Regions from separate parts of the Homo sapiens genome. Here regions 1 and 2 are each linked to region 3. Evidence: fine-mapped expression QTL. A gene starts in region 3. Each other region holds a variant in brackets. All regions are shown on one strand. Distances are from middle to middle.

Region 1 (10,084 bases), 48 kb before region 3:
TACTCATCCTCCAGGTCTTAGCTAAATGCCACTCCAAGAGGCCCTCCTGCTATGGCTCCCTTCACTTGCCCAAACCAGGACCCAGCATGATATCCATGCCGAACCTTCATAGCACTATCCTTTTTTTTTTTTTTTTTTTTTTTTTTTTTTTTTTTTGAGACGGAGTCTCGCTGTCGCCCAGGCTGGAGTGCAGTGGCGCAATCTCGGCTCACTGCAGGCTCCGCCCCCTGGGGTTCACGCCATTCTCCTGCCTCAGCCTCCCGAGTAGCTGGGACTACAGGCGCCCGCCACCTCGCCCGGCTAATTTTTTGTATTTTTAGTAGAGACGGGGTTTCACCGTGTTAGCCAGGATGGTCTCGATCTCCTGACCTCGTGATCCGCCCGCCTCGGCCTCCCAAAGTGCTGGGATTACAGGCGTGAGCCACCGCGCCCGGCCAACACTATCCTAATCATGTGTTTTATTAAATTTTTTATTTATTTGTTCTGGCTCCTCATAAACTTAGTGAAGGCAAGGATCCTGCCTGCATTGCTTACTACTCTATCTCTCACCCCTCACCAAATGTCTTTTTGGAAGTCCTTTGCTCAGAATAAATGCCCAATGAGAGAGAGAGAGAGAGAGAGAGAGAGAGAGAGTGTGTGTGTGTGTGTGTGTGTGTGTGTGTAAGGGAGAGAGAGAGAATAAGAAATGTGCAAGAAGAGGCCGGGCGCGGTGGCTCATGCCTGTAATCCCAGCACTTTGGGAGGCCGAGGCGGGCGGATCACGAGGTCAGTAGATCGAGGCCATCCTGGCTAACACGGTGAAACCCCCTCTCTACTAAAAATACAAAAAATTAGCCGGGCGTGGTGGTAGGTGCCTGTAGTCCCAGCTACTCGGGAGGCTGAGGCAGGAGAACAGCGTGCACCCAGGAGGTGGAGCTTGCAGTGAGCCAAGATCGCGCCACTGCACTCCGGCATGGGTGACAGAGTGAGACTCTGTCTCAAAAAAAAAAAAAAAGAAATGTGCAAGAAGATCGCGGAAAGAGACTTGCAGGCCAGCTGCATCCCCCTCCTTGGAAGAGACACGAAGGAATGCCCAGCCCAGCCCAGCCCTTCCCTTCATGTCAAGTTCACGCTGTTCAAGCTCACCCACCTCTCACTGAGTATAAACAGACCTGTTTTGTAATTGGTCTTTATCCCAGAGTAGCAGAGCTTTGGGAGCAAAGAGCCTGCAGGGTAATGAATGGGAGGGAGAACAGACGCTGGTGTCCAACTTCACATGGCATTTGGAAATTCACAGCCAAGCCTCTTTGCAACACTGTGCCCTCCCCGGGGGCTAATTTCAGCAGGCTGCAGCAGCATAGGCTTTAACTCCAGAGACCTGGGTGCTACCTTCTGCTACCTGCATAACTCTGCCCAAACCATGCATCCTTTCTGCCTTTCAGTTCTCAGCTGCGAAGTGGGAATCATGATAAAGATAACCATAATCACAATGCAAACAGGGCAACTGTTGCAAGGATCAAAAGAGATGGTGGGTGTGAATGTGTTTGGTAAGCTGGAGAGCTCCGTACAAGCTCCAATTGTAACTGCCACCGTACCTGTGCAGGAGATTCAAATCTGGCAGGTGTGACTGTGCATGTAACAGACGCTAGACCCCTTTGTGAAATCCTGAGGAACCCCTACAGGACCCACGTGATAGTCCTCATGTGAGCAGGGAGGAATTTTCTCAGAATACTAGATGTCAGCTTTGCTAGTTGATAATTATGAGTGTTTGCTTTGGAGCACCCCATCTTCTTCGAGGAGTTGAACTAGCTGCTGGAATGATGAATGAAGGCGTTTTTAGATAAGTATTATCACACAATGATCCAATCGATACACATAAAATCTGCTCAGGGCAACACTGTGCCTTGTCATTTTTATGAGCATATTTACAACTGAGGGTTGGTCTCAGGTTATCTACTGTGTATGTAATTCAGGCTCAGTGGCCTCAAGTCCAAGAGCTATGGCATAGCAACTGTTCTGGTTAAAAACAAGACTTCTGGCCGGTCATGGTGGCTCACACCTGTAATCCCAGTACTTTGGGAGGCCGAGGCGGGCGGATCACTTAAGGTCAGGAGTTCAAGACCAGCTTGGCCAACATGGTGAAACCCCATCTCTACTAAAAGTACAGAAATTAGTCAGGCGTGGCAGCATGCACCTGTAATTCCGGCTACTTGGGAGGCTGAGGTAGGAGAATTGCTTGAACCCAGAGGTTGTAGTGAGCTGAGATCATGCCTCTGCACTCCAGCCTGGGTGACAGATTGAGACTCTGTCTCAAAAAAGCAAACAAACAAAAAACCAAGACTTCCAAGAGCTTGCAGAACCTTCACTGGTGGAGGACCATGAGGGCTATACAGGTTATTCCTGGCACCAGTTGCAAATCCATCTGCCTGTCATCAGTGCCTCACATCCTCTTTGAAATTCTGACTTAAAATCATCAGCTCTGTAATGGGTGATGGGTGACATCCCTGGAATTTGGAAATCAGGCTGCCCTCTGGAAGTTAAACCCTTCAAGTCTACACGAGGGACAGGATTAGTTATCTGAACAAGGCCCCAGAAGGAACAGGATGTCTCTCTGGTGAAAGCCAGAACTGGCCTTGGAAATTCAATCCAGGCATGCCTGCCTGTGAAGGAAGCCTTACTAAATCTCAGAACAGGCTGGGCCTGGTGGCTCACGCCTCTAATCCCAGCGCTTTGGGAGGCTGAGGCGTGGGTGGATCACCTGAGGTCAGGAGTTCGAGACCAGCCTGGCCAACATGCTGAAACCCCGTCTCTACTAAAAATACAAAAAATTAGCCGGGAGTGGTGGTAGGCATCTGTAAATCCCAGCTACTTGGGAGGCTGAGACAGGAGAATCGCTTGAACCTGGGAGGCGGAGGTTGCAGCGAGCCAAGATCGTGCCACTGCCCTCCAGCCTGGGCAACAAGAGCGAAACTCTGCCTCAAAAAAAAAAAAAAAAATCTCAGAACAGCTTCTGAACAGCAGGTAAATGGCTGCAAAGGCCCTACAAGATACCAGAGAGGAAGGATCTGTTCCATTCTGCAGCCAACCAAAATAGAGGGGCAGGGCCCCAACAGGCTGCTAGGAGAATGGGCCCCTGTAGGCAGATATATCCCCAGAGACAAAACTGTCCCACCCCAATGACAATATTATTCACATATCACTTGCATGATTCCATTTGCCCTGTTTTATGCCCCCAGTACAGAAAACACACTGGTTTCAGCTTCCTATGCAAGGGAGCATGTGCTGAGCAGTCACCTTGAGTATCTTGGGCAGTTATAGTTCTCATTATAAATTAATATATTATAATTTCGACTAGGTCTCATGTGAATCTGTATCTTCTTCTCTGAACCTGATCAATCCTGATTTTATCCTTATTTATTTATTTAGAGTTCCAGGCTGGAGTGCAGTGACTATAACAGGCTGGACCAAAGTGCATTGCAGCCTCAACCTCCTGGTCTCAAGTGATCCTCCCACCTCAGCCTTCCAAGTAGCTGGGTCTAGAGGCACATGCCACTGCACCCAGCATCAATCCCAATTTTAGACTTGTAAAGCTGATCTCCAGTCCTCAGCCCTGGAATGAGTATGCAGCAGCAAGCCACTACACCATCTACCTACGTTCTTAGTCAGTATTTACTGATGATTGACCACGGCCTCAAAACCCAAATCCAGGCATTTCCATGACGAATCATTGAGATTTGGAATGGGAGGAGGAAATGTGCCACTGCATCCCTGGCCTTGGATAACTCAGCTGGCCTCTAACAGCTTGGTGTTTCTAATGGCAGTAGCTACGTCAAGCATAATTTCAGGAAATGGCAAACCAGCTTACATTGTCCCAAATCAGGGTTATTTTCTGGAGTACAGTCATCTATCTATTCACAATAATGTATATCGAAAATAGAACATAGAGTAGTCATCACGGCATTTTCTAAATACTCCTTTGCACACGGTCTGGCATCTAGTGATGGCATTAAATTCCTGCATACAGCAAAGAACAACATACTTATGGACTCAAAGATGCTTTGTAAACTGAACTATGTCCGCTGGGCAGATGTTTAAAGCTGAGCTACTGAAAATGATGTTTATAGCCGGGTGCAGTGGCTCATGCCTATAATCCTAGCACTTGGGGAGGCCGAGGTGGGCGGATCACCTGAGGTTGGGAGTTCAAGACCAGACTGACCAACATGGAGAAACCCCATCTCTACTAAAAATACAAAAATTAGCTGGGCGTCGTGGTGCATACCTATAATCCCAGCTACTCGGGAGGCTGAGGCAGGAGAATCACTTGAACCTGGGAGGCAGAGATTGCAGTGAGCCAAGATCGCGCCATTGCACTCCAGCCTGGGCAACAAGAGTGATACTCCGTCTCAAAAAAGAAAAGAAAAGGAAATGATCTTTATGAAGCATTTACATTAGTATACGGTAAGAACTTTAGTCAAGTGCAAATTTAGAACACAAATTGTCCAGGCATGGTGGCTCATGCCTGTAATCCTAACACTTTAGGAGGCTGAAGCAGGAGGATTGTTTGTGTCCAGGGAATTTGAGGCTGCAGTGAGCTGTAACTGTGCCACTGCACTCCAGCCTGGATGACAGAGCAAGA[T/C]CTTGTCTCAAAACACACACACACATATATATATATAAAGTGTAAACTTGCATTTTAAAACATTTTTTTTTTTGAGATGTAGTCCTGCTCTGTTGCCCAGGCTGGAGTGCAGTGCCGTGATCTCGGCTCACTGCGATCTCTGCCTCTCAAATTCAAGCAATTCTCTTGCCTCAGGCTCCCAAGTAGCTGGGATTACAGGCACGCACCACCATGCCCAGCTAATTTTTTTGTATTTTTAGTAGAGACGGGGTTTCACCATGTTGGCCAGGCTGGTCTCAAACTCCTGACCTCAGATGATCCACCTGCTTTGGCCTCCGAAAGTGCTGGGATTACAGGCATGAGCCACCGTACCTGGCCCCATTTTTCCTTTTTTTGAAATAGGGTCTTACTCTGTTGCCCAGGCTGGAGTATAGTGACATGATATCGGCTCACTGCAACCTCTGCTTCCCAGGCTCAAGCTCTTCTCCCACCTCAGCCTCCGGAGGACCTGGGACTACAGGTGTACTCCATCACGCTTGGCTAATTTTTTGTAGAGACAAGGACTCACTATATTGCCCAGGCCAGTCTCAAACTCCTGGGCATAAACGATACTCTCGCCTCAGCCTCCCAAAGTGTTGGGATTACAGGTGTGAGCCATTGTGCCTGGCCTTACATTTTTTCCTTAATTAAAAAAAAAATAGCCCTACGTATATTAAGAAAAAAAAGAATGAAATGCACTAGTAATAACAGAATTTGGTGGAAGGATTTTAGCCCCTACTTTTACTTTTGTTTTTTCCAAATGTTCTGGGAATCTTTATCACTTTTGTAGTGAAATATATACGATTTTAATTTTTAAAATTACCCTTTGAGGAAACATAAGCAACCAAGAAAGAAAAAATGGGGAAAGGACTCTGAGGACTGAAAACAGGCTACCTGAACTTCATAAGCAATTTTGTTACATGTTGCAAACAGTACAGAAAAAACACCCTTCTTGGGACTGATCATGCTGTAAGTAGGACTAGCTCTAAAGATGGCCACTGGCAGGAATGAACTGCCAGGACAGTCCCCACCAAGCCTTCTGCCACAATCACGAGAAGGGAAATAGTGAAGGGGCAAGGTCAGTTTAACCTGACTCACCCATGGCCAGAAGTGTCACAATGTGGACATGACTAGACCGCCTTTGCAAATCCCCAAAGCTTGACCACTCCCTTGGCCAACTGCAGGGTTGCGGTTTTCGTAGTCAAGCAGGGTAGGACCTGTTTTCCATTTCTGAGAATGAGTGGAGGATGGACCCCAGAAAAGCAAGCCTCAGATTGACATTCCCAAAAGCACAAATTGAAAATCTGGAGAGTGAGAGCTCTCAACTTTCCTATTCACCCTAAAATTGGATGAATCTTTTGTTGATGAACACTCCTAAGACTCTCTTTCGCCACACTGTTGAAACAACACTGACTTTGTTTTTTTTTTTTTGAGACAGAGTTTCGCTCTTGTCACCCAGGCTGGAGTGCAAAGGCGCGCTCTCAGCTCACTGCAACCTCCGCCTCCCGGGTTCAAGCAATTCTCCTGCCTCAGCCTCCCGAGTAGCTGGGACTAGTGTGTGCCTCCACACCCAGCTAATTTTGTATTTTTAGTAGAGACAGGGTTTCACCATGTTGGCCAGGCTGGTCTTGAACTCCTGACCTCAGGTGAGCCACCTGCCTTGGCCTCCCAAAGTGCTAGATTACAGGTGTGAGTGATTGCGCCCGGCCTCAAGAACACTGACTTTCAAAATACACCTGAAGTTTCAGGGTGAAGATTAATTCTTGCCTCTGCATCAAGATCACTTGCATTTGAAGTCTACTTCCAAAAGAATATGGCATTCAGCACATCACTAACACCAACCTTTCTAGGTCACCTGCCTTTCCCATCTTTAAAAGAAAACAAAGTTCCTTGGAAAATGTGCTATATATAACAAGGAGGTTGGCTTCACGCTTTCTTTTTTTTTTTTTTTTGAGATGGCGTTTCACTCTTGTTGCCCAGGCTGGAGTGCAATGATGCGATCTCAGCTCACCCCAACCCCTGCCTCCCGGGTTCAAGTGATTCTCCTGCCTCAGCCTCCCGAGTAGCTGGGATTACAGGCATGCACCACCATGCCTGGCTAATTTTGTATTTTTAGTAGAGATGGGGTTTCTCCATGTTGGTCAGGTGATCCACCCGCCTCGGCCTCCCAAAGTGCTGGGATTGCAGGTATGAGCCGTGCCTGGCCTTTTTTTAAAAAACAAACAAACAACACCAATAAGCTGGGCGCAGTGGCTCACGCCTGTAATCCCAGAACTTTGGGAGGCCAAGGTGGGCGGATCACAAGGTCAGGAGTTCGAGACCAGCCTGGCCAACATGGTGAAACCCTGTCTCTACTAAAAATACAAAAATTAGCTGGGCGTGGTGGCGGGTGCCTGTAATCACAGCTACTCAGGCGGCTGAGGCAGGTGAATTGTGTGAACCTGGGAGGCAGAGGTTGCAGTAAGCTGAGATCACGCCATTGCATTCCAGCCTGGGTGACAGGGCAAGACTCTGTGAAAACAAACAAACAAACAAAAAACAAAACACCAATGCTGGGCAATTGGCTCATACCCCTATCTACTTTACACAAAGCTTCCCAGTGCACGTGGTCACATTTCCTGAGAAAGGAAACAGGAAGGACTGGGCTTGGCTTACTTCGGCCCAACTTGTGTCCAGAAGTGTAACAACGGGGAGTATGGTTAGATCCCCTCTGCAAATCTCTCCTAGCCACTCCTGACCACCTTTCTTGCTTGCTCTCCAATTCTAGATTTCTGTGAACAAGGCATGTAAACAGTGCCACCTCTGGGCCGAGTGTGGTTCCTTTCAGCTTTTCCTAGCCCCAAATCATTGGGAGGAAATGCCCTAATTTGGGGAGCGCCAGATCCAATTAAGACTTGGGTCCCCTTAGATAATGAGTGGAAGAGTGTGGTGGGACAGGCTGCCAGGAGGTGCACAGGGCCTCCTGGGACCATTATCAGAGCCAAGTGCCTTAAACTAGAATGGAAACGAGGAATGTGTGCATGTGCTCGCCTCACGTTGGGAGGATCTGAGATGGGAAGAATGTATCAGTCAGGTGCTAGGGCACAAAGCACACTCATACTGGGGTGTGGGAACAGTGCTGGGGTTCTTTGCTTCTGGCTGCCTGTGGGATTGTATCCACATGAGGGGACCTGGGCTGACAGGACAGTGACCTCAGGACTTCTGTGCCATGCCCTTCTCTGCTCCAGACCAACAAAGCTGGCCCAGTGAATCACATTACACAAACAGATCCCCTTGTCTGGGAAAAAAAGAATGTGGGAAGACACGGAGGTGAATGAACAAGGCTATGCTGGGCACTTAGAGGGGCTCAGCAAATACTTTGTTGAATCAATGAACAAAGATGCTGGAGAGACTTGTGCCCAGGACAGCTGGGGCAGTCCCTGGTGCTGAACTGCAGCTCCCGACACCAGCCCTGGGGCATTCGCTGCCCCTCCTGACACAGGTGGGTGCTCCCGGGCAAGTTCCAAAGCCTGTCCTATGGGCAAAGCCTTATGATATGCCCTGGACTGGATGTAAGGAGTTAGACAGGAAGAGGTCAGGCCACTGCTGCCAACAACTGCACACTGTTCTTACCCCTGGAGGGGGCAGACTATGAAACAGTTTCTAGAAAAAAAATGCAGGATGAGACACATTTATTCTACATCTGGTCACAGTAAATCTCACCCAGACCACAGGCAGGATGCCACGTGGCTACAGGCAGCTGGCGGAAATGGAGATCATCTGTTCTGGTGCTCATGGCCACTCTGGGCAGAAAGCAAAGGTGCCTCATGGCACCTACTCAGAGGCACTGAGGCCACATTCCCATCTCCAGGCACCAGGGATGTCTCTGAAGGGTGATTCCATTTGGAGTTTCCAAAATCCAGGACTTCTGAGAGCCAAGCCCTAGTTCCAAGTCATCCTGAGTCCAGGCTCTGCCAGAATCTTGAGCACCTGGAGCTGGTGGCAAGGCAGCCTGGGGGCTGAAAGGGCCTCAGACTGGACCACAGGGCAGCCCAGGGGCCCTGGGCCTCAGGGTCGACGATCCTTTCTGCGGTTTTTGTGTCCCACCTGGGAACCTCGCCGGGCAGCCTTCACCAGGCCTTTGAACTGTCCCTGCAGCTTCATCTTCTTCCTGCAGGGCCAAGGAACGGAAGGGTCACATCTGGCTGAGAATAGGAGGCCCCCTCCTGTTGCCAAATGATGGCTCACCCCCAGCGCCAGCAGGGATGAGAAGGGGGCCTCCAGGTGGTGGCCAGCACATGAACTAGGCAGACCTCACGTGGTTCCAGCTTCCACACGGCTCATGTCCTGACCTGGACATTCCACTTTGGCACAATTATCCCCCTGGAAACAGGCCTCCCTTCCATTTTTCCTCTAATGTATGTCCAGAGAAGGTCAAAGCTCCCTCTGCCCACCCATCCCTCCATTGAAAGGTAACTTACAACCCGCAGAAGCTAGAACTTTACAACACCATTTCCCTAGTAACATTAGTTTCCAAAGCAGTCCTACACATAACCCAATTTAAGGGCCAAAGTCGGAAACAACTCTAATTTCCTACCAATAAAGGGATTAGAAAAGCAAATTATACAAAGCTATTAAAAATGATGACTATGGCTGGGCGTGGTGGCTCATGCCTGTAATCCCAGCACTTTGGGAGGCCGAGGTGGGCAGATCACAAGGTCAGGGGATCAAGACCATCCTGGGTAACACAGTGAAACCCCGTCTCTACTAAAAATACAAAAAAATTAGCCGGGTGTGGTGGCGGGTGCCTGTAGTCCCAGCTACTCCGGAGGCTGAGGCAGGAGTATGGCGTGAACCCGGGAGGCAGAGCTTGCAGTAAGCCGAGATCGTGCCACTGCACTCACTCCAGCATGGGTGACACAGCGAGACTCCGTCTCAAAAAAAAAAAAAAAAGATGACTATGTAGAGTATGTAAATACCAGAAAACATCTGTATGACATAATATCATGTTTAAAGAAGCAGTTCAGGGCGGGGCACGGTGGCTCGTGCTTGTGATCCCAGCACTTTGGGAGGCTGAGGCATGCAGATCATGAGGTCAAGAGATCGAGACCATCCCAGCCAACGCGGTGAAACCCCATCTCTACTAAAAATACAAAAATTAGCTGGGCATGGTGGCACGCGCCTGTAGTCCTAGCTACTCGGGAGGCTGAGGCAGAAGACTAGCTTGAACCTGGGAGGCAGAGATTGCAGTGAGCCAAGATCGCACCACTGCACTCCAGCCTGGCGACAGAGCAAGACTCTGTCTCAAAAAAATAAAAAAATAAAGAAGCAGTTCAAGTCAGTAATACAGGTAGGTACCAGCTACATGATATAGGTGCATGTTAAAAAAAAAAGCTGGAAGAGACTCAAATTGAGCTGAGAGTTTAATAAGGCCTTCCCTTCTTTAGAGCACTCTGCTCCCTCATCCCCACC
Region 2 (10,084 bases), 200 kb before region 3:
TGACAGAGGGCTGGCAGATTAACGCAGCACACAGGTAAGCATGGGACCCAGGAAAGGCTCAAGTTTGGGCACATTTTCTACCAAGTGGAACTAACTGGTTTTTCTTGACTGAGGAGAGGGAAGAGGAGAGAAGTTGAGGCTGGACTGCAGGGACTGGCACCTCTTGATTTGCCCGAGGTTCTCTGGCACCTGAAGCACAGCCTGCCCCTCAACAGTCACCAAGGCACTGTGTCTTATCGGGGAGGATAACGCTTCCTGTGGGGTTCATCCTGCACAGCGTACAAAATCTTCCGCTTCACTATCACGCCATCATGAGATCTGGATAGGGTGGGAATTAGCCTCTCCACCCCAAACCCCTGCCTCATTTTAAAATAAGAAAACTGGCCGAGCGCAGTGGCTCACACCTGTAATCCCAGCACTTTGGGAGGCCGAGGCGGGTTGTTCACTTGAGGTCAGGAGTTCGAGACTAGCCTAGCCAACATGGTGAAACCCACCTCTACTAAAAATACAAAAATTAGCTGGGCATGTTGGCACATCTGTAATCCCAGCTACTCAGGAGGCTGAGACATGAGAATCATTTGAACCTGGGAGGCGGAGGTTGCAGTGAGCCAGGATCGCGCCACTGCACTCCAGCCTGGGCAACAGAGCCAGACTCTGTTTCAAAAAAATAAAATATGCTGGGCGAGGTGGCTCACGCCTGTAATCCCAGCAACTTGGGAGGCTGAGGCAGGCAAATCATTTGAGGTCAGAAGTTCGAGACCAGCCTGGGCAACGTGGCGAAGCTCCATCTCTACTAAAAATACAAAAATTAGCCAGCCATAGTGGTGCGTGCCAGTAATCCCCAGCTACTCGGGAGGCTGAGGCAGGAGACTCGCTTGAACCCGGGAGATGGAGGTTGCAGTGAGCCGAGATCATGCCATTGCACTCCAGCCTGGGCGACAAGAGCAAAACTCTGTCTCAAAAAAAAGTAAAATAAAGTAAGAAAACCAAGGTTCAAAGAGGTCGTGTGACTCATAAACACCCTGCTAACGAAGTAAGGGATTCCAGACTCAAACGCAGGTCTGTGTCATACAAAGCCCGTGCTCCTTCTGTGCCTTATCCTTTCATTTTAGTTTTTATTTTTCATCAAAGTTATCCATGGACATAAATGGACAACTTGTTCTGCAAGATTTTTTATGAAAATGGCAGTTCCTCGTCCCCATTTCCCTCTCCTGAAAGTAACAACTTTCACCACTTTATTTTTTATTATTTATTTTACTTTTTTTGAGACGGGGTCTTGCTGTGTCACCCAGGCTGGAGTGCAGTGGCACAAGCACAGCTCACTGTAGCCTTGACTTCCTGGGCACAAGTGATCCTCTCACCTCAGCTTCCTGAGTAGCTGTGACTACCGGTGCATGTCACCACGCCTGGCTAATTTTTGTATGTTGAGGGAGATTTGGGGTTTTGCCATGTTGCCCAGGCTCGTCTCAAACTCCTAGGCTCAAGTGATCTGCCTGCTTCGAGGCTGCAGTGAGCTATGATCATGCCACTGCATGCCAGCCTGGGCAACAGAGGAAGCCCTTGTCTCAAAAAATAAATACAATAAGATACAAAAAAGCGGTATTGCACTGGTTATAGTTTAGCTTCTCTCTACTGGCTGACTGCTAAGAAAGATGTTGCAGCTAATTAATGAAAAAGGAATGATCAAATTAGAGTGATACCATTTTGTACCCACCAATTAATGAATGAATCTAGGCATTGTGTATCAGCAGCTGTGAACGTCACTCCCTTTACACATACACACACACACAAATAATACATTATGTGCTCCTCTTGAGGAAGGAACACACCATCACCTATAGTTGTCAAAAAATCAAAACCTGAATTTGATCAAGCCTCTAGATTTACCAATTTACTGGAAATACAGACATATTCCAGAGATATTGTAGGTTCAGTTCCAGACAACCACAATAAAGAGAATATTGCAATGAAGCGAGTCACATGAATTTGTTGGTTTCTCAGTGCATATAAAAGTTATGTTTACCCTACACTGTAGTCTCTTAAGCATGCAATTACTATTGTGTTTTAAAAGGCAATGTATATACTTTAAAAATACTTGGCCGGGCACAGTGGCTCACGCCTGTAATCCCAGCATTTTGGGAGGCCAAAAGTGGATTACCGTAGTCACAATTTAAATTTACTTTTAGAATTATTTGATTCATATCTGCCTCACTCGCTAGGCTTTAAGCTCCAAGAAGGCAGGAGTCATGCCTGTATTAGCTCGTCATTTTATCTCCTGGTTTAGCACATGCCTGGCGCATTGCAGGTGCTCAGTGAAGAGAAACTGAATGAACTAAATATTAGATTGACAAGAGAGTTTGGTCCTCCCATCCCAGCTGCCACCGTTTGCATGCTGTTGCCCAAGGAAACCTGCCACCTTCTGCAGCCGTTAGACCCCTCCTAGAGGAGCCACCTCACCTCCCTCCACCTGCTCCCTCCTCTTCACCCTCCTTGCCTGCTGCTCAGAAGCTCTAGGCAACTGGCTGGGTACAGTGGCTCACACCTGTAATCCCAGCACTTTGGGAGGCTGAGGCAGGCAGATCACCTAAGGTCAGGAGTTCAAGACCAGCCTGGTCAACATGGTGAAACTCCGCCTCTACTAAAAATGCAAAAATTAGCTGGGCATGGTGGTGCCTATAATCCCAGCTACTTGAGAGGCTGAGGCACGAGACTTGCTTGAACCTGGGTGGCGGAGGTTGCGGTAAGCTGAGATAGCGCCACTGCACTCCAGCCTGGGTGACAGAGTGAGACTCCGTCTCAAAAAAAAAAAAAAAAAAAAATGCTCCAAGCAACTAGAATAGACCTAGAAGAACTGAGGCAGCCATGCAAACCTGGCCCCTCTGGCCCCACTGAGAGCCAAAACCTCCTCCGCAGGTCCCTAACAAGCCAGTGAGTCTGGGTCCTAGGTCCTGGGTACTTCCCCTAAGGCCTGGAACTTCCTTTTTTTGAGACAGAGTCTCACTCTTGTCCAGGCTGGAGTACAGTGGCAAGATCATGGCTCACTGCAGCCTCGACCTCCTGGGCACAAGTGATCCTCCCACCTCAGCCTAGTGGTTGAACTACAGGTACCCGCCACCAGGCCCAGCTAATTTTTTGTAGAGATGAGGTTTCGCCATGTTGCCCAGGCTGGTCTCAAACTCCTAGGTTCAAGCAATCTGCCCGCCTTGCCCTCCCAAAGTGCTGGGATTTACAGGCATGAGCCGTCATGCCCAGCCTGGCCTAGAAGATTCTTAAAGACGCATCACCACAGTCATCTGAAGAATTCCCTCCACCTAAGAACCTGCTCCCCCGACTCTACCCTGCTGGATGGAAAGAAGGCCTGGGCACGTATTCGATTATCCAGTGAGGACTTGCTGAGCGCCTGCCATGGCCAGGCTCTGTGTGAGATGGTTGGGGAATGTCAGTGAACAAACACGGCAGACACAGTCACGCTCCCCTTGCTCCTTGCTCACCAAACAAATTTCATTCCATCTCTCACCCTGGCCCCTTGGGGTCTTTGTTGTTTAAGCCAATCATGGTGTTATATTCCCTTATAAATGCTGGCATTTTTTTGTAGAGATGGGGTTTCGCCATGTTGCCCAGGCAGCAAGATGAAAAAGTACTTGGCACTACTACACTATACATTTTAAATGGTTAAGATGGTAAATTTTATATTGTGTTTCTTACTACAATTACAATTTATTTTAAAAGTTTGCACATGGGTAAGACTAAATTGTAGAGTTTAAGAAGGCACTCTTGGGTGAAATTATAAAGAAATGCAAGGAAGTTTTGCTATAAAAGTAGCTGAGTTTCTCTTTGAGTATTTCGCTCTAAGTACCACCATTGTCTGTCCAGTCAGACAAGAGGACTCATGCTGTCACACCCTGAGTGCCCAGTGAAGCTGGAGCTGAACCCCAGGCCATCCTGTTTCCACTACACCGATGCTAGCATTCACAAGGGAATAGAGCACCATGACTGGCTTAGACGAATGACAATCCCAGCCAATAAAACTTGACGAGGCGTCTGCTGGGAGCTGCTGGGAAGGTTTTCCTCACCCTTACAAAGGGACATGAAGAAGAAACACCTCCTCCTCAGGCCAACATTGTGTGATGCCTGGAGCTGGGGCAGCAATTTTGCAACCTCGAGGGAAATGACTGCCACGGTGAGAATGGCAAGGCTGAAAGAAAGAACCCAGGTTATTGGTGACAATGCTGAGCTTCTGGATTCACCACCCTGGACATGCCCTTCCCCTGATATTTTTGTGGCCTATAAAGATGAAAGCCCTCATTGTTTACACTGGTCCTGGATGAGTTTTCTATTACTTGCAACCAAAAGCCACCTACAAGGGACAGCTCACGCTTCCTGAGCAACTGCTGGCTAGCAGGCACCGAGTCACAGACCTTAGTACTCTCTCATTATTCCCACTCACCGCTTAGGAGCTGGAAGTCATGACCCCATTTTATAGCTGAGGAAGCTGAGACCCAGAGATCAACAGGGACTCGCTGTGTCACACACTGAGTGCCCAGTGGAGCTGGAACTGAAGCCCAGGACATTCTCTTTCCACTACACCAATGGTGGTGATAGATTTCATCACTATGCCCATTGGAACTCTCCGCTACAAGTGCAAGGAAGGGGAACTAGGCCAGCCCAAGCCACAGGGTATCCAGGAACTCAGAATCAGTCTCTCTCTCTCTCTCTCTCTCTCCCGCCAGCTCTCTGTCTCTCTCCCATCATTGCATGCTCCATACTCTCAGGCCAGCTGCCCCACTAGGCTAGAAGTATGGCCACCAGCAACCCTAGTCTCACATCCCAATAGCCAAGGGACAAAAAGGACAGCAGTCTCACTTTCCCCAGCTCGAGTTTTATTGGCCAACCTTGGGCCACATACCCCTGCCTTGGGCTAATCATGTGAGTCTGAATTCTGGGTGCTACTTCCTGGTCTGTGGCTTGGACTATTCAAGCTCTCTAAGACTCAGTTTGCCCATCCTTAAACAAGGATAATAATAATCGTACCTACTTCATTGGGTTTTTGGGGGGATCATTCATTGATTTAATGAATACTTATTGCAGCCAATTCTGTGCCAGGCAGTGTGTTAGGTGTTGAAGCTACAGTAGAGGACAGAGACCCAATCGCTGCCCTCGTGGAGTTAATAGTCTAGCGAGAAAGACAGATGTTACATAAATAAACACATGAACGATTCTCTCTATTACAACTGTGAGAAGTGTTTTAAAAGTACAGAGTTCCACTGGAGAGAGGGAAAGGAGACCTAGCTCAGGTCAAATGAGTAACATTTAAAGAGCCCAACACTGGGCTTGGCACGACTTAGCTTTCAGTCTATGTAGCTATCATATAGTTTTTACTCGGCATCCTCCCAACCCTCTGGCCTCCCCACAGCCACTTCCCACAGGGAGAGGAGCTGAGTGACTTGGCTGCCCTGCAGCCAATTACAAGCTTCCTAGGGGACAGACAGCAAGTGTGGCACATGCGTTGGGACAGCAGCGGTACAGCAGGTCCCAGGGAAGCGCAATGCTGGTGGGCGGCACACACCCAGCTGATGACATCGCCACTTATTGGGAGCAGCCTTTCCTGGGCTCCAGCTGAAGACCCAACCAGGAGGCCTGCAGAGGCCCCAGTGGCTTCTCAGGTTCCAGGGTCTCCCAAGCTCCTTCGGCTGGCTCTGCATGGAACCCTAAAATGCA[C/T]TGCCGAACAAGTGACTTGCCTTTCACCATTGCCAGGCTCTGCCATCATGAGCCTCAACTCCCTAGCCTCAGGGACAAGGGTCCTGCCCCTACCCCTGCCCCAAGGCACCGTGCTGTATAATCACTTCCTAGTGACCGTTTGCAAACCTCTTTGTGATCCAGGGATGTGTCTGTGGAACATACTCTGTCCCCAGCAGGGCCCTATACAGCTCCTACCCACCTCTCTTGTGCAGAGGCACTGTTTCTTCAGGGAAGAAGGGCCAAGAAGCTGCCACATCGGATCACTGCCACAAACACTGGCTCCGTTCCCGCCCCCATCACCACTGCCCTGGCCTGAGCTCAAGCCCCCATGGGACCCCAGTGCCAGCCCATCTGGCTACCCGGCCTCCAGGGTCTCCCTTCCAACATGAGACAGCCAGAGGGGCTGCCTGGAGCACATGCCACTCCTCCATTTGAGCACCTTCAATGGCTCCCTGGATCTGCACCATCCGGCCAGTCCCCTAATGTTGCCACAAGGCCCTTGTGATGTGGCCCTTGCCTAACATTTCCAACTGTATGTTCTCAGCCAGCCAACTATATGCACAGAGTTTGCCTGGAACATGATACATGTTTGTCAAACACGTGTCCCCTTCTGCATTAATTTACTATGTGCCAGGCTCTGTGTGTGGCTCTGGGATGCAGTGGTAAGCCACACGGACATAGTCTCTGCCCTCAGAGAGTTCACAGTCTAGTACAGGAGGCAGACTGCAATGAAACAAAAGCAATCACAAGAGCTTATCAGGGCAGGGTGTGGTGGCTCATTCCTATAATCCCAGCACTTTGGGATGCTGAGGCAATCGGATCGCTTGAGCCCAGAATTCAAGACCAGCCTGGGAAACATAATGAAACACCCTCTCTACTAAAAATACAAAAATTAGCCGGGCGTGGTGTCATGTGCCTGTAGTCCCAGCTACTTGGGAGGATGAGGTGGGAGGATCACTTGAGCCTGGGAGGCCAAGCTGCAGTAAGCTGTGTTCATGCCACTGCACTCCAGCCTCAACAGAGTGAGACCCTGTCTCAAAAAAATAATTAATTAAAAAAAGAGTTTATAGTTACAAATTATAGTGAGAGCTATGAAGGACCCATCCATGAAGGATGGAGAGTATTAGAGAAGTGTGACTTTGCCTGGGAGTCAGCAGCTCCCCTGAGATGACACCAACCTGACATCAGATGAATGAGTAGTCACCATCCAGGTGAGGGGTTTGGGGGTGGAGGGAGAGTGTCCCTGATGCTGAGGCCAGAGAGCACCCACAGGCTCTGGGATCTGGAAGCCTGGGGGCAGGTGGGCCCTAGGGATCCCAGGGCTGTGAGTGGAGATGCAGATGGGGCATGATCCCCCTGAACCGAGGAGGGATGGGAATGAAAACAGGGAAGCCTGGTGAGTGATGCTGGGGGTTTGGACTGATGTCATCACAGTAGAAATGCCAAGTCAAAGGGGACTTTTTAATTGAACTTTTTTATTATGGAATTTTAAAAAATAAATAAATGTAGACAGAACAGTACCATGAACTCCTGAACCCCTCATCCAGCAGCATCCACAACAGCTGACCCACAGCCAAGCTTTTCTCAGCTATACCCCACCCACGCTCCTTACCCCAAATGTATGATGCCGAAACAAATCCCAGATTTGTTTGCTGTGTAGTTCACCCATGGATATTTCAGTATGTATCTCTACAACAAAAGGACTGTTTTTAACATAACCGCATTATCACACCTAAAAAATAAATGATAACACAAGGGGAAATGTCTGAGGCTTGATATTTATTGCCAAACTACCCAGAAAAGCCCCCCGCCGACCCCAAGCAGGTGTGAGGGTCCCCATCTCACTACACACTTGCCAACACTGGGAGTTACAAGAGATGGATTTCTACAAGAGGCTCACCCCAAAACCGAGGAGCTAACCCTTAAATTCCAGGTTCACTTAATTAAAATGAGGCAGCCACAGAAACACTTTCTGTGGAAATCTCTCTCACACATCCAATGGCCACTTGTGAGCGGCCAGCGATTGGGGGTTGTAGAGACAGGAGGTGGTGAGCCCAGCAACCCCTGCCAGCTCCCCAGGGTGGGCCCAGTACCGGTTCATGGAGTACCCTGCCGGCTCCCCAGGGTGGGCCAAGTGTGGGTTCACAGAGCACCCTGCTGGCTCCCCAGGGCGGGCCAAGTGCGGGTTCATGGAGCAGGGCCCCTGCCCATCCTTCATCTCCCACATCTGCCCTCAGCCAATGGGGCAGACTGAGAAAGGGTTTCCTTAGGACCCAAGGGTTTCCAGAAACAACCCACCAGAGCCAGAGAGGGAAGGACCAGCAGGTGCTCCCTCCTATGGCAAGCACATGCCCCTTCAGAGCTCAAAGGGTTTCTGTTTGAGCTGAAACCTAGGGACTCACTGCCTTGCCTCTCCTCAGACCTGTGCCCCCCCTACAGTGACTCATGGGCGTCCCATTCAGTCAGGAACCTAGAATATTAAAAGATCTACAAGCCAGATAGGTGAGTTTTCAGGTTCAGAAAGCAGTTTCATCTTTCTAGTAAGATGGAGGCAGCCACAGTTCCAGAACTCTCTGCGCAGTTCCCTAACCTTTCTGAGCCGTGGTCTTTACCTAATCAGGTTTGACTTCCTGCTACAGTCTCCTACTCTCAGTCCAGAATAGAGGCGGCAACCAGGCATGGTGGTACGTGCCTGTGGTCCCAGCTACTCAGAAGGCTGAGGTGGGAGGATCGCCTGAGCCCTGGGAGTTCAAGGTTGTAGTGAGCTGTCATCGCACCACTGCACTCCAGCCCAGGTGAGAACCTATCTCTAAAAAAATTAAAAATAGAGACAGCTGTCCTTCCTGCAAGCCAGCCAGCCAGACACTGAGTCTTTGCTGTGTTCCAGGCACCCTGCTAAGCCAGGGAGATGCAAGGGTGAATAGGAACTGATCCCTTCCCTGCAGGAGCTCACCATCTCTAAGAAAAGCAGTCACATAAACACTGTGCAACGTGACCAGGGCTCCAGAAGAGATGCGTTCATGCTGCTGTGGGAATTCAGCTAGTGGAGCCAAGAGCTCTGCCTGGAGAGAGAAGGCTTCTAGGGGGCGGGATCTTAAAAGCTGGGGCTTGAATGACACTGGGGAAAGTCAAGGTGGGGGAAATCATCTCCTGGACAGGACATGAACTAACACTCTTTGGATTCAAGCAGCAGAACATCTTTTCATACACTTACTGGACATTTGTACGTCTTATTTGAAGTAATGTCTATTCATATCCTTGCCCATTTTTAAATTGGGTTATTTGTTTTTTTTTATTGTTGAGTTGTAAGAATTCTTGGCCAAGCTCAGTGGCTCATGCCTGTAATCCCAACACTTTGGGAGGCTAAGTCAGGAGGATGGCTTGAGCCCATGAGCCCAGGAACGTGAGACCAGCCTGGATAAGACAGCGAGATCCCATCTCTACAAAAAATTAGCTAGGTATGGTGGTACACATCTGTAGTGCCAGCTAATGGGGAGGCTGAGGTGGGAGGATTGCTTGAGCCCAGGAGGTTGAGGCTGCAGTGAGCTGTGATCACATCACTGCACAACAGCCTGGGAAACAGAGCAAGACCCTGTCTCAAAAAAAAAAAAATTCTTTATATATCCTAGACACTACTCCCTTGTCAGATATATAAGTTGCAAATATTTTCTTCCATTTTGTGAGTCTCAATATCCTTTCATACCTTTTGAATCTGGTGCCATATACATATACTAGCTATTCAGATATCATAGGTAATTCAACATTTTCTGGAGCCACAATAAGAAAGTAAAAAGACAGCTGGGCGCGGTGGCTCATGCCTGTAATCCCAGCACTTTGGGAGGCCAAGGCGGGTGGATTGCTTGAGGTCAAAAGTTTGAGACCAGCCTGGCCAACATGGTGAATCCCCATCTCTACTAAAAATACAAAATCAGCCTGGTGTGGTGGCGGGTGCCTGTAATCCCAGTCACTCAGGAGGCTGAGGCAGGAGAATCTCTTGAACCCGGGAGGTGGAGGTTGTTGCAGTGAGCCAAGATCGTGCCACTGCACTCCGGCCTGGGCGACAGAGCAAGACAGAAGCTATATTATGTAGAATTCCATGACAGTGAATGAGGTATTCCATGGACACAGATGGTTGCACTGGCAGAAGTATTTTGGGAAGAGATGGCAAATCCATATCTAGAATAAGAGTCTGTTCCAGTGAGGACAAAATTGATGTCCCCTCTATGGTGGAAGGGGTCCAATGTAGTTAGTCTGCCACCAGATGGCTGGCTGAGGTCCCCCCACCTCCAGGAATGATGAGCTTCTGAAATGTCTGGAGGGCATTTTCTTTCCTTCCTTTCAACAT
Region 3 (9,773 bases):
CAGGGCCTAGGTCCATACCAGGGGGCCCAGCAAATAACAAGACTCAGAAAATGCTTGCTAAAATTCCACCATGAGGTACTAACCTTCTAGAAATACCTGCATGAGATGAGTGTGCAAATATTTATGTACAAGGATGTTCATGGCAGCAACAAATTGGAATGGTCAAGAAGCCATCAACAGGAGATTAATAATGTACTGTAGTTGTCTCTAATGTACTGCAGTTATCGAGGGGGGGATTGGTTCCAGGACCCCTAAAGATACCAAAATCCGAGGATGCTCAGGTCCCTTATAAAAAATGGTGTAGTATTTGTGTATAACCTATATACATCTTCCCATATACTTTATTTATTTTTTTTGAGATAGAGTCTCACTGTTAGCTAGGCAAGAGTGCAGTGGCATGATCTCAGCTCACTGCAACCTCTGCCTCTGGGTTCAAGCAATTCTCCTGCCTCAGCCTCCCAAGTAGCTGGGATTACAGGTGTGCACCACCATGCCCAGCTAATTTCTGTATTTTTAGTAGAGATGGGGTTTTACCATGTTGACCAAGCTGGTTTTGAACTCCTGGCCTCAAGTGATCTGCCCTCCTTAGCCTCCCAAAGTGCTGAGATTACAGGCATAAGCCACCATGCCTGGCCTCCCATATACTTTAAATCATCTCTAGATTACTGGTAACACCTAACACAATGTAAATGCTATATAAATAGTTGTTATACTGTATTTTTGTTGTTGTTGTTGTTGTTGTTGTTTTTGAGACAGAGTCTCACTCTGTCACCCAGGGTGGAATGCAGTGGCGCACTCTCTGCTAACCGCAGCTTCCACCTCCCGGGTTCAAGCGATTCTCCTGCCTCAGCCTCCTGAGTAGCTGGGATTACAGGCATGTGCCACTACGCTAGGCTAATTTTTTGTACTTTTAGTAGGGATGGAGTTTCACCATGCTGGCCAGGTTGGTTTTGAACTTCTGACCTCAAGTGATCTGCCCGCCTCGGCCTCCCAAAGTGCTAGGATTACAGGCGTGAGCCACCTCGCCTGGTATATTATTATTATTTTAAAAAGATTTTTCAATCCATGCTTGGTTGAATCTGCAGGTGCAGAACCCGCAAATATAGAGACCTGACTGTATCATTATATAATAATGAAAAATTTAAATAGTGCATTATTCAAAAGAATGAGAACAACTATATATTAACTTATAAATATCGTTCAGTAGGGAAAAAGTTGCAGAACAGTGGATAAAAAATAAACTAATCAAGCAGGGCACAATGGCTCACACCAGTAATCCCAACACTTTGGGAGGCTCAGGTGGGCAGATCCCTTGAGCCCAGGAGTTCAAGACCAATCTGGGCAATATGGCAAACCCCATCTCTACAAAAAATACAAAAATTAGCTTGGTATGGTAGCACTCCCCTGTAGTCCCAGCTACTTGGGAATTGGAAGGCTGATCAGCCACTGCACTCTAACCTGGGTGACAAAGTGAGACTCTGTCTGAAAAAAAAGAAAAGAAAAGAAAAGAAACTAATCACATTTTGGTAAACCTAAATAACAAAATTGGGTAAAAAAAAATACGTATATATATATACATATATATATATATATGTATATATATATACGTATTTTTTTTTTTTTTTTTTTTTTTTTTGAGATGGAGTCTCGCTCTGTTGCCCAGGCCGGACTGCGGACTGCAGTGGCGCAATCTCGGCTCACTGCAAGCTCCGCTTCCCGGGTTCACGCCATTCTCCTGCCTCAGCCTCCCGAGTAGCTGGGACTACAGGCGCCCGCCACCGCGCCCGGCTAATTTTTTGTATTTTTAGTAGAGACGGGGTTTCACCTTGTTAGCCAGGATGGTCTCGATCTCCTGACCTCATGATCCACCCGCCTCGGCCTCCCAAAGTGCTGGGATTACAGGCGTGAGCCACCGCGCCCGGCCTTTTTTTTTTTTTTTTTTGAGACAGAGTCTCGTTCTGTCACCCAGGCTGAAGCGCAGTGGTGCGATCTTGGGTCGCTGCAACCTCTGCCTCCAGGGTTCAAGTGATTCTCGTGCCTCAGCTTCCCAAGTAGCTGGGATTACAGGCGCATGCCACCATGCCAGGCTAATTTTTTAGTAGAGATGGGTTTTCACCATGTTGGCCAGGCTGGTCTCAAACTCTTGACCTCAAATGATCTGCCCACCTCGGCCTCCCAAAGTGCTAGGATTACAGGTGTAAGCCACTATGTCCAGCCTGAAAATTTAGTTTTTAAATTTCAACTACTCATAATTTAAAATATTTGATCTATTTACTAGAAAACATATATTTGTAACAACCTGGCAAATAGGTTCGTAGTAATTCATAGTAGGCAAATCTACTTGTACAACCATAAATGTTATGAACTCTAAATAGACACAAATCAAGTATTTCCAATGAAAATTTAGCATCTAAGTAGGGGTATATGGGTAAATTATACACTAGATTTTGAAGACTTGGTATCATAAAAATAATGCTGTAGTAAAATATACTGATTATACATTGAAGTGATAATATTTTAAAGATACTGAGTTAAATAAAGTACATTATTAAGATTAATTTGGGCCGGGCGCAGTGGCTCACACCTGTAATCCCAGCACTTTAGGAGGCCGAGGCGGGTGGATCACCTGAGGTCAGGAGTTTGAGACCAGCCTGACCAACATGGAGAAACCCTGTCTCTATTAAAAACAGAAAATTAGCCGGGCATGGTGGCGCACGCCTCTAATCCCAGCTACTCGGGAGGCTGAGGCAGGAGAATCACCTGAACCCAGGAGGCGGAGGTTGCAGTGAGCCGAGATCGTGCCATTGCACTCTAGCCTGGACAACAAGAGCGAAACTCCGGCTCCAGAAAAAAATAAAAAGATGAATTTATTTTACCTGTTTCTTTCAGTTTTTAATATGGCTACTAAACATTTTTAAATTACATATGTGGCTTGAATTTAGATTACTATTGGACAGAGCTGGTCCAGGAAGACAGACAATGACCCATTAACAGGAGCTCTGTGAATGATTCAAGTTGGGGGATCTACCATCACATTATATTATTCTTATATCATTTTGATATCATTTAGAATTTTGACATTTTTTATTTCAATAACAAAAAATATATATAACTTTATAGTATAGATAAAATAATAAAAGTAAGGCCAGGCACGGTGGCTCATGCCTGTAATCCCAGCATTTTAGGAGGCCAAGGTGGGCGGATTACCTGAGTTCAGGAGTTTGAGACCAGCCTGGCTAACATGGTGAAACCCCGTCTCTACTAAAAATACACACACACAAAAAATTAGCTACTTGAATAATGCACTATTTAAATATACTAAAAAAAAAAAAAAAAAAATTAGCCGGGCGTGGTGGCACATGCCTGTAATGGCAGCTACTTGGGAGGCTGAGGCAGGAGGATTGCTTGGGCCTGGGAGATGGAGGTTGCAGTGAGTGAAGATTGCGCTACTGCACTCCAGCCTGGCCAACAGAACGAGACTCTGTCTCAAAATAAATACATGAATTAAGTTAAATTAAAGTAAATAAATTTAGTTCTTGCTAGATAAAACGTTTCCTAATCACTGTTACTCAGCATTTATTTACTCAACATATGTTTATTGAAAATACTCTGTGTAAAAGTGCTGTGTTAGGTATAGCTGAGGAGAGAAATGTTTGGAAAATATTTCTACCCTCAAGTACTTAAGCAGAGGAGATGTTCTTATAAAAAGCAGAAAGTAGAACCTGCCCTAGGAGGAGACATAAAGGGGAGGAGCGATGACGCATCATCCAGAAATACCAGCTGTTGTCATCGGAGACCTGTCGGCCAGAGCTGAAGAAAAGGCATGAGTTGGCCTCTCCTCACTATCCTATGGCCCTCCCGACCCTCGCCCCTACCTCCTTGTGGGCAGCCGAGTTGGACTCCCAGAAGCGCTGTACTTTGCTGAAGGTGACGTTTGTGCAGTCGGAAAGGCCACTCAGGAAGGTACCCGAGGACTTCTCGGTGAGAACCAGCTCCGCCTCTTCTTCCATGGGCGTCTCCGGGGCTTCGCTTTTGCCCAAGCGCAAGGACCCTGACTGCAGCTCATTATGTAACTTCACAGCATCGACTGTCAGGTCACTCCTTCCTGAGAGCCAGAGGCACAAGATAAGGTCCAAGCCTCCTTTTGGTCAAGAGAACAGAACAACCCCTGGGAAACAAACCAGCCCAGGCCAAATCTCCAACCCGAGAGGCTGAATTCTGAACACAGCCAGTCTCATAAAACCACTGTATGCCTAAAAACTTGAAAAACCAAGGAGAAAGGGAATCCTCCATGTAAAAGTTTCTGCTTCCCTGTAGCAGCGGCATAAACGCCACTGGGAATCGGCTGGGAGCTACATTCAGAGGGCCTGCAAAATAAATGAAGGTGAACGCGCTCTGTAAAGAGCTACCCAAGGTCCAAGCCATCTGTCTCAACTCTGACACCCGCGGTACCTTACACAAGACATTTCCCTACTGCGGACCTCAGTTTCTGTATCTGCTAAATTGGAAGGACTGCCCTTCAGAGAGGGCTCCAGATCCGACATCCTAAGAGACGAAAGGTCCAATGCCTGGCCCCGCACTCTCCCAGAGGCCCCAGACTCATCTGGACCCAGGTCTGCCTGGAACCCCGCCCCCGGCTGCGCTCGGGTCTCAACCCAGCTACCTGACGGCCGGCTGAAGAAGCGGCTGCGGGCGGCCTGACGGTGGCGGCAGATGGCGGGGTTGCTGTCGCTGCTGTGGCCTTTCTTCCAGCGCTTCAACTTAGCTGAGACACCAGAAGGCAACTTTCCCGAGCGACCCATGTTGACTAAGCCGTGGCGAGGAATGAGCTTAAATGACCGGCTTCCAGGGACGTAGAAACACGCTCAGAACCCACGTGGATACCCTGTAGCCTTCACTTCCTCTTCTTCTGGCGTCACTTCCGGATTCGTGTGCATTACTATGGTAAAACAGTCAACATCCGGTTTTACACCTCCTCCTGGCTTCGGATGGGGAGGAGCTCCAAGGAGATCCGTTGCTAGGGAGGAAGTTAGGTTGCTAAGGGTTCTATGGGGTTCTTACTCCAGCCAGGACCAGGTTTCAGGGCCACAGGCGTAAGCCTTATAAAACTGGAGTTTGGCTGAGCGTGGTGGCTCATGCCTGTAATCCCAATACTTTGGGAGGCTGAGGCGGGTGGATCATTTGAGGTCAGGAGTTTGAGACCAGCCTGATCACCAGGGTGAAACCCCGTCTCTACTAAAATAAAAAAATTAGCTGGGCTTGGTGGCGCGCGCCTGTAATCCCAACTACTCGGGAGGATGAGGCACAAGAATCACTTGAACTCGGGAGGCGGAGTTTGCAGTAAGCCGAGATCACGCCTCGGCACTCCAGCCTGGACAACAGAGTAAGACTGTCTCAAAAAAACAAAACAAAGCAAACAAAAAACTGGAGTTCTTTTGCAGTTAAACAACAACAAAAAGTACATTTATATTACATTTGAAAATCTATTTTCAAAATTAAGCATAGAAACACATTTATATGAAAGTCATATACCTTCATATAAAAGTATATATGTAATCCCAGCACTCTGGGAGGCCGAGGCGGGCAGATCACCTGAGGTCACGATGTTCGAGACCAGCCTGACCAACATGGAGAAACCCTGTCTCTACTAAAAATACAAAATAAGCCGGGCGTGGTCGCGCATGCCTGTAATCCCAACTACTGGGGAGGCTGAGGCAGAAGAATCGCTTGAACCTGGGAGGCAGAGGTTGCGGTGAGCTGAGATCACGCCATTGCACTCCAGCCTGGGCAACAAGAGTGAAACTCCATCTCAAAAAAAGAAAAAAAGAAAAAAAAGAAAAGTCAAAACTTATGGAGACTTGAAAGTGTGAAAATTAGCTTGACTTGAAAAGAGAAAAAAGCAGTCAGTGGTGTTCTAGACAAGCTTTGCTATTTTCATTTATTACTGGAGATACTCAGTTGCTAAGCCACCTTGCCTTATGACAGCATTCCATCCCTAATTAATCCCTGGTTCTCCAATTTCTCTCTCTCTCTCTCTTTTTTTTTTTTTTTTTTGAGACAGAGTCTTGCTCTGGTGCCCAGGCTGGAGTGCAGTGGCACGATCTCGGCTCACTGCAACCTCCACATTTCAGGTTCAAGCAGTTCTCCTGCCTCAGCCTCCCAAGTAGCTGAAATTACAAGCATGCACCACCGCGCCCGGCTAATTTTTTTTTTTGTATTTTCAGTACACGCAGAGTTTCACCATGTTGGCCAGGTTGGTCTCGAACTCCTTTCCTCAGGTGATCTGCCCACCTCCCAAAGTGCTGGGATTACAGGCATGAGCCACCGCACCTGGCATCCGGCCAATTCCCAGTTCTCCTAATTCCACCTCAGAACCAGCAACCGATCCAGTTTATCCCCACTCCCCTGAGACCCTCCTTAAAATCCTTCAACCAGATCCCAAACCTTACAAAAGACACATTTCTCTTCCCTCTTGCCCAGCAGCTTTATTCTAAACCTTTAGCAGCATTCTTTGGAAGAAGATATATAGAACTAACAAAGTACATCTATAATATATAAAGAATTCCTACCAATCAATAAGAACAAGGCAGACAATCCAATAAAAAGAATGGGCAAAAGGGACAGGTGGGTGCAGTGGCTGATGCTTGGCCTGGAATTCCAACACCGTAGGAGGCCGGGGGGCAGGGAGTAGAGGGGAGGAAGGATTGCTCCAGCCCAGGAGTTCAAGACCAGCTTGAGCAACATCATGAGACCCAGTCTCTACAAAACATACAAAAATTAGCTGAGCATGGTGGTGTGAACCTGTAGTCCAGCTACTCAGGAGGCTGAGGTGGGAGCCCAGAGAAAGTCAAGGCTGCAGTGAGCCGTGATTGCACCACTGCACCCCAGCTTGGGTGACAGTGTGAGACCCTGTCTCAAAAAAGAAAAAAAATTAAAAAAAAAAAAAAAAAGAATGGGCGGCTGGGTGTGGTGGCTCACGCCTGTAATCCCAGCATTTTGGGAGGCCAAGGTGGGCAGATCACGAGGTCAGGAGTTCAAGACCTGGCCAACATAGTGAAAAACCCCATCTCTACTAAAATACAAAAAAAATTAAGCTGGGCGTGGTGGTGGGCACCTGTAGTCCCAGCTACTTGTGAGGCTGAGGCAGGAGAATTACTTGAACCCTGGAGGTGGAGGTTACAGTGAGCTGAGATCGTGCCACTGCACTCCAGCCTGGGCATCACAGCGAGACTGTGTCTCAAAAATAAAAAAAAAGAAGAATGGCAAAAGACACAAACAGCTGAACATCATGATGTATTGTACAAAAAATAAAAAAGTCATGAACAGGCACTTCACAAAAATTAATATCCAAATGGCCAATAAATATATGAAAAACAGGCCAGGCATGCTAGCTCACGCCTGTAATACCGGCACTTTAGGAGGCTGAGGCAGGAGGATCACTTGAGCCCAGGAGTTGGAGACCAGCCTGGCCAACACAGCAAGACCTGTCTCCTCAAAAACTAAGAAAAATAGTGGGGTGCAGTGGCGTGCACCCATGGTCCCAGCTACCTGGGAAGCTGTGACAGGAGAATCTCTTAAGCCCAGGAGTTTGAGGTTGTAGTAAGCTATGATAGCACCACTGCACTCCAGCCTGGGTGACACAGTGAGACTTTGTCTCAAGAAAAAAAAAAGAAAAAGAACAGACCAGAACAGAAAAGATACCAGTTTCATTATCAACATGGGAATACAAATTAAAATCACAATGAAATGCCACTACACACCCACCAGAATGGCTAAAATTAAAAAGACTAGCAATACTAATGTTGGTAAGGATGTGGAGAAACTGGCAACATATGCTGCCATTGGAGTATAAAGTGATACAACCATTTTGGAAAACTGTGTGGTAGTATCTACTAAAACTGAATACAGTCTTGCTCCATGACCCAGCAATACCTTCCTGCATATTTACTCAACAGAGATGTTTACTTATATGCAAAAAAGAGATATAGGAGGATGTTCACAATGGAAATAATAAAATGTCCATCAACCGTAGAATGAGGCTGGATGCACTGGTTCACACCTGTAATCTTAGTGCGTTGGGAGGCTGAGGCAGGAGGATTGCTTGAGGCCAACAGTTCAAGACCAATCTGGGCAAAATAGTGAGACCCCATCTCTAAAAAAAAATTAAAAATTAGCCACATGTGGTGGCATGCACCCGTAGTCCTAGCCACTTGGGAAACTAAGGCAGGAGGATCACTTGAGCCCAAGAATTCAAGGTTAGAGTGAGCTATAATCATGCCACTGCACTGCAGCCTGGGCAACACAGTGAGACTCTGTGTCTAGAATAGATAGATAGATAGATAGATAGATAAGACAGACAGGCAGACAGAGAGATAGAGTAGAATGGATAAATTGTGACATATTGATATATAATGGAATACTATAGTATTTGACTCTGTATAGCAATGAGAAGGAACTACTGCTACATATATCATGCATGACCTAGGTTGAGTAAAAGACTCCAGACACAAGAGTACATAGTTATAATCCCATTTATTTATGATTTAATTATTTATTTATTTATTTTGAGACAGAGTCTTCCTCTGTCACTCAGGTTGAAATGCAGTGGCACAATCATGGCTCACTGCAGCCTTGACCTCCAGGCTCAAGCAATCCTCCCACTTCTGCCTCCCGAGTAGCTGGAACCACAGGCATGCATTGCCATGCCTGGCTAATTTTTTTTTTTTTTTAAAGCTAGGGCCTCACTCTGTCACCCAGGCTGGAGTCCAGTGGCATGATCATGGCTCACTATAACCTTAAACTCCTGAATTCAAGTCATCCTCCTGCTTTGGCCTCCCAAATAGCTGGGGCTACAGACACATACCCACCACACCAAGCTAATTTTTTTTTTAAGAGACAGAGTCTTGGCCAGGCGCGGTGGCTCACGCCTGTAATCTCAGCACTCTGGGAGGCCGAGGCGGGCAGATCACAAGGTCAGGAGATCGAGACCATCCTGGCTAACACAATGAAACCCTGTCTCTACTAAAAATATAAAAAATTAGCTGGGCGTGGTGGCGGGCACCTGTAGTCCCAGCTACTCGGGAGGCTGAGGCAGGAGAATGGCGTGAACCCAGGAGGCGGAAGTTGCAATGAGCTGAGATCGTACCACTGCACTCCAGCCTGGGCAGCAGAACGAGACTCCTTCTCCAAAAAAAAAAAAAAGAGACAGAATCTTGCTATCGTTGCCCAGACAAATCTCGATCTCCTGGCTTCAAGTGATCTGCTCGCCTTGGCCTCCCAAAGTGCTGGGATTATAGGCGTGAGCCACCATGCCCTGCTTACATGTATATTACACTTCATGGGCTTACTGAAAATACAAAGTGGGCCGGGGGCGGTGGCTTACGCCTGTAATGCCAACACTCTGGGTGGCTGAGGCAGGCAGATAACTTGAGCCCAGGAGTTCGAGACCAGCCTGAGCAATATGGTGAAACCCCGTCTCTACAAAAAATATGACAATTAGCCAGGCATGATGGCAGACACCTGTAGTCCCAGCTACTCGGAGGCTGAGGTGGGAGGATCGCTTGAACCCGGGAGGCGGAGGTTGCAGTGACTCGAGATTAAGCCACTGCACTCTAGCCTGGGTGACAGAGTGAGACTCTGTCTCAAAAAACAACAAAAAAAAGTGGTCCTCTCACCTAGAGCAGAGAGAGCATAAAGTGTGTTAATGTGAGAAAGCGTCGCTGCAGAGAAGACTGAAGTCAGTTCAGACTCTAGGCCCCAGCCCTTCCAAGTCT

What was found.
Region 1: its variant is fine-mapped to the expression of RRP12 in monocytes (TOPMed, PIP above 0.99).
Region 2: its variant is fine-mapped to the expression of RRP12 in left ventricle (GTEx, PIP 0.97).

Annotation. Positions count from the first base shown.
Region 1 is chr10:97,348,414-97,358,497 of GRCh38, forward strand. It overlaps RRP12 (ribosomal RNA processing 12 homolog), which reads right to left. Exons shown (of 34, transcript NM_015179.4): 34 at 8,288-8,783. The coding sequence ends at 8,681. Among named protein-coding and RNA genes, the nearest start is that of FRAT2, 19 kb to the left of the region's middle. The variant T/C (reference allele first, on the strand shown) is at 4,616.
Region 2 is chr10:97,199,412-97,209,495 of GRCh38, forward strand. The region is part of intron 11 of ARHGAP19-SLIT1 (ARHGAP19-SLIT1 readthrough (NMD candidate)); the gene reads right to left. It overlaps LOC112268065 (a long non-coding RNA gene), which reads left to right. Exons shown (of 3, transcript XR_002957098.2): 2 at 1-34; 3 at 3,874-4,310. Among named protein-coding and RNA genes, the nearest start is that of SLIT1, 18 kb to the left of the region's middle. RefSeq lists a silencer at 3,000-3,059 and an enhancer at 3,736-4,335. The variant C/T (reference allele first, on the strand shown) is at 5,719.
Region 3 is chr10:97,396,430-97,406,202 of GRCh38, forward strand. It overlaps RRP12 (ribosomal RNA processing 12 homolog), which reads right to left and starts at 4,911. Exons shown (of 34, transcript NM_015179.4): 1 at 4,664-4,911; 2 at 3,876-4,105. The coding sequence starts at 4,802. RefSeq lists an enhancer at 4,395-4,444.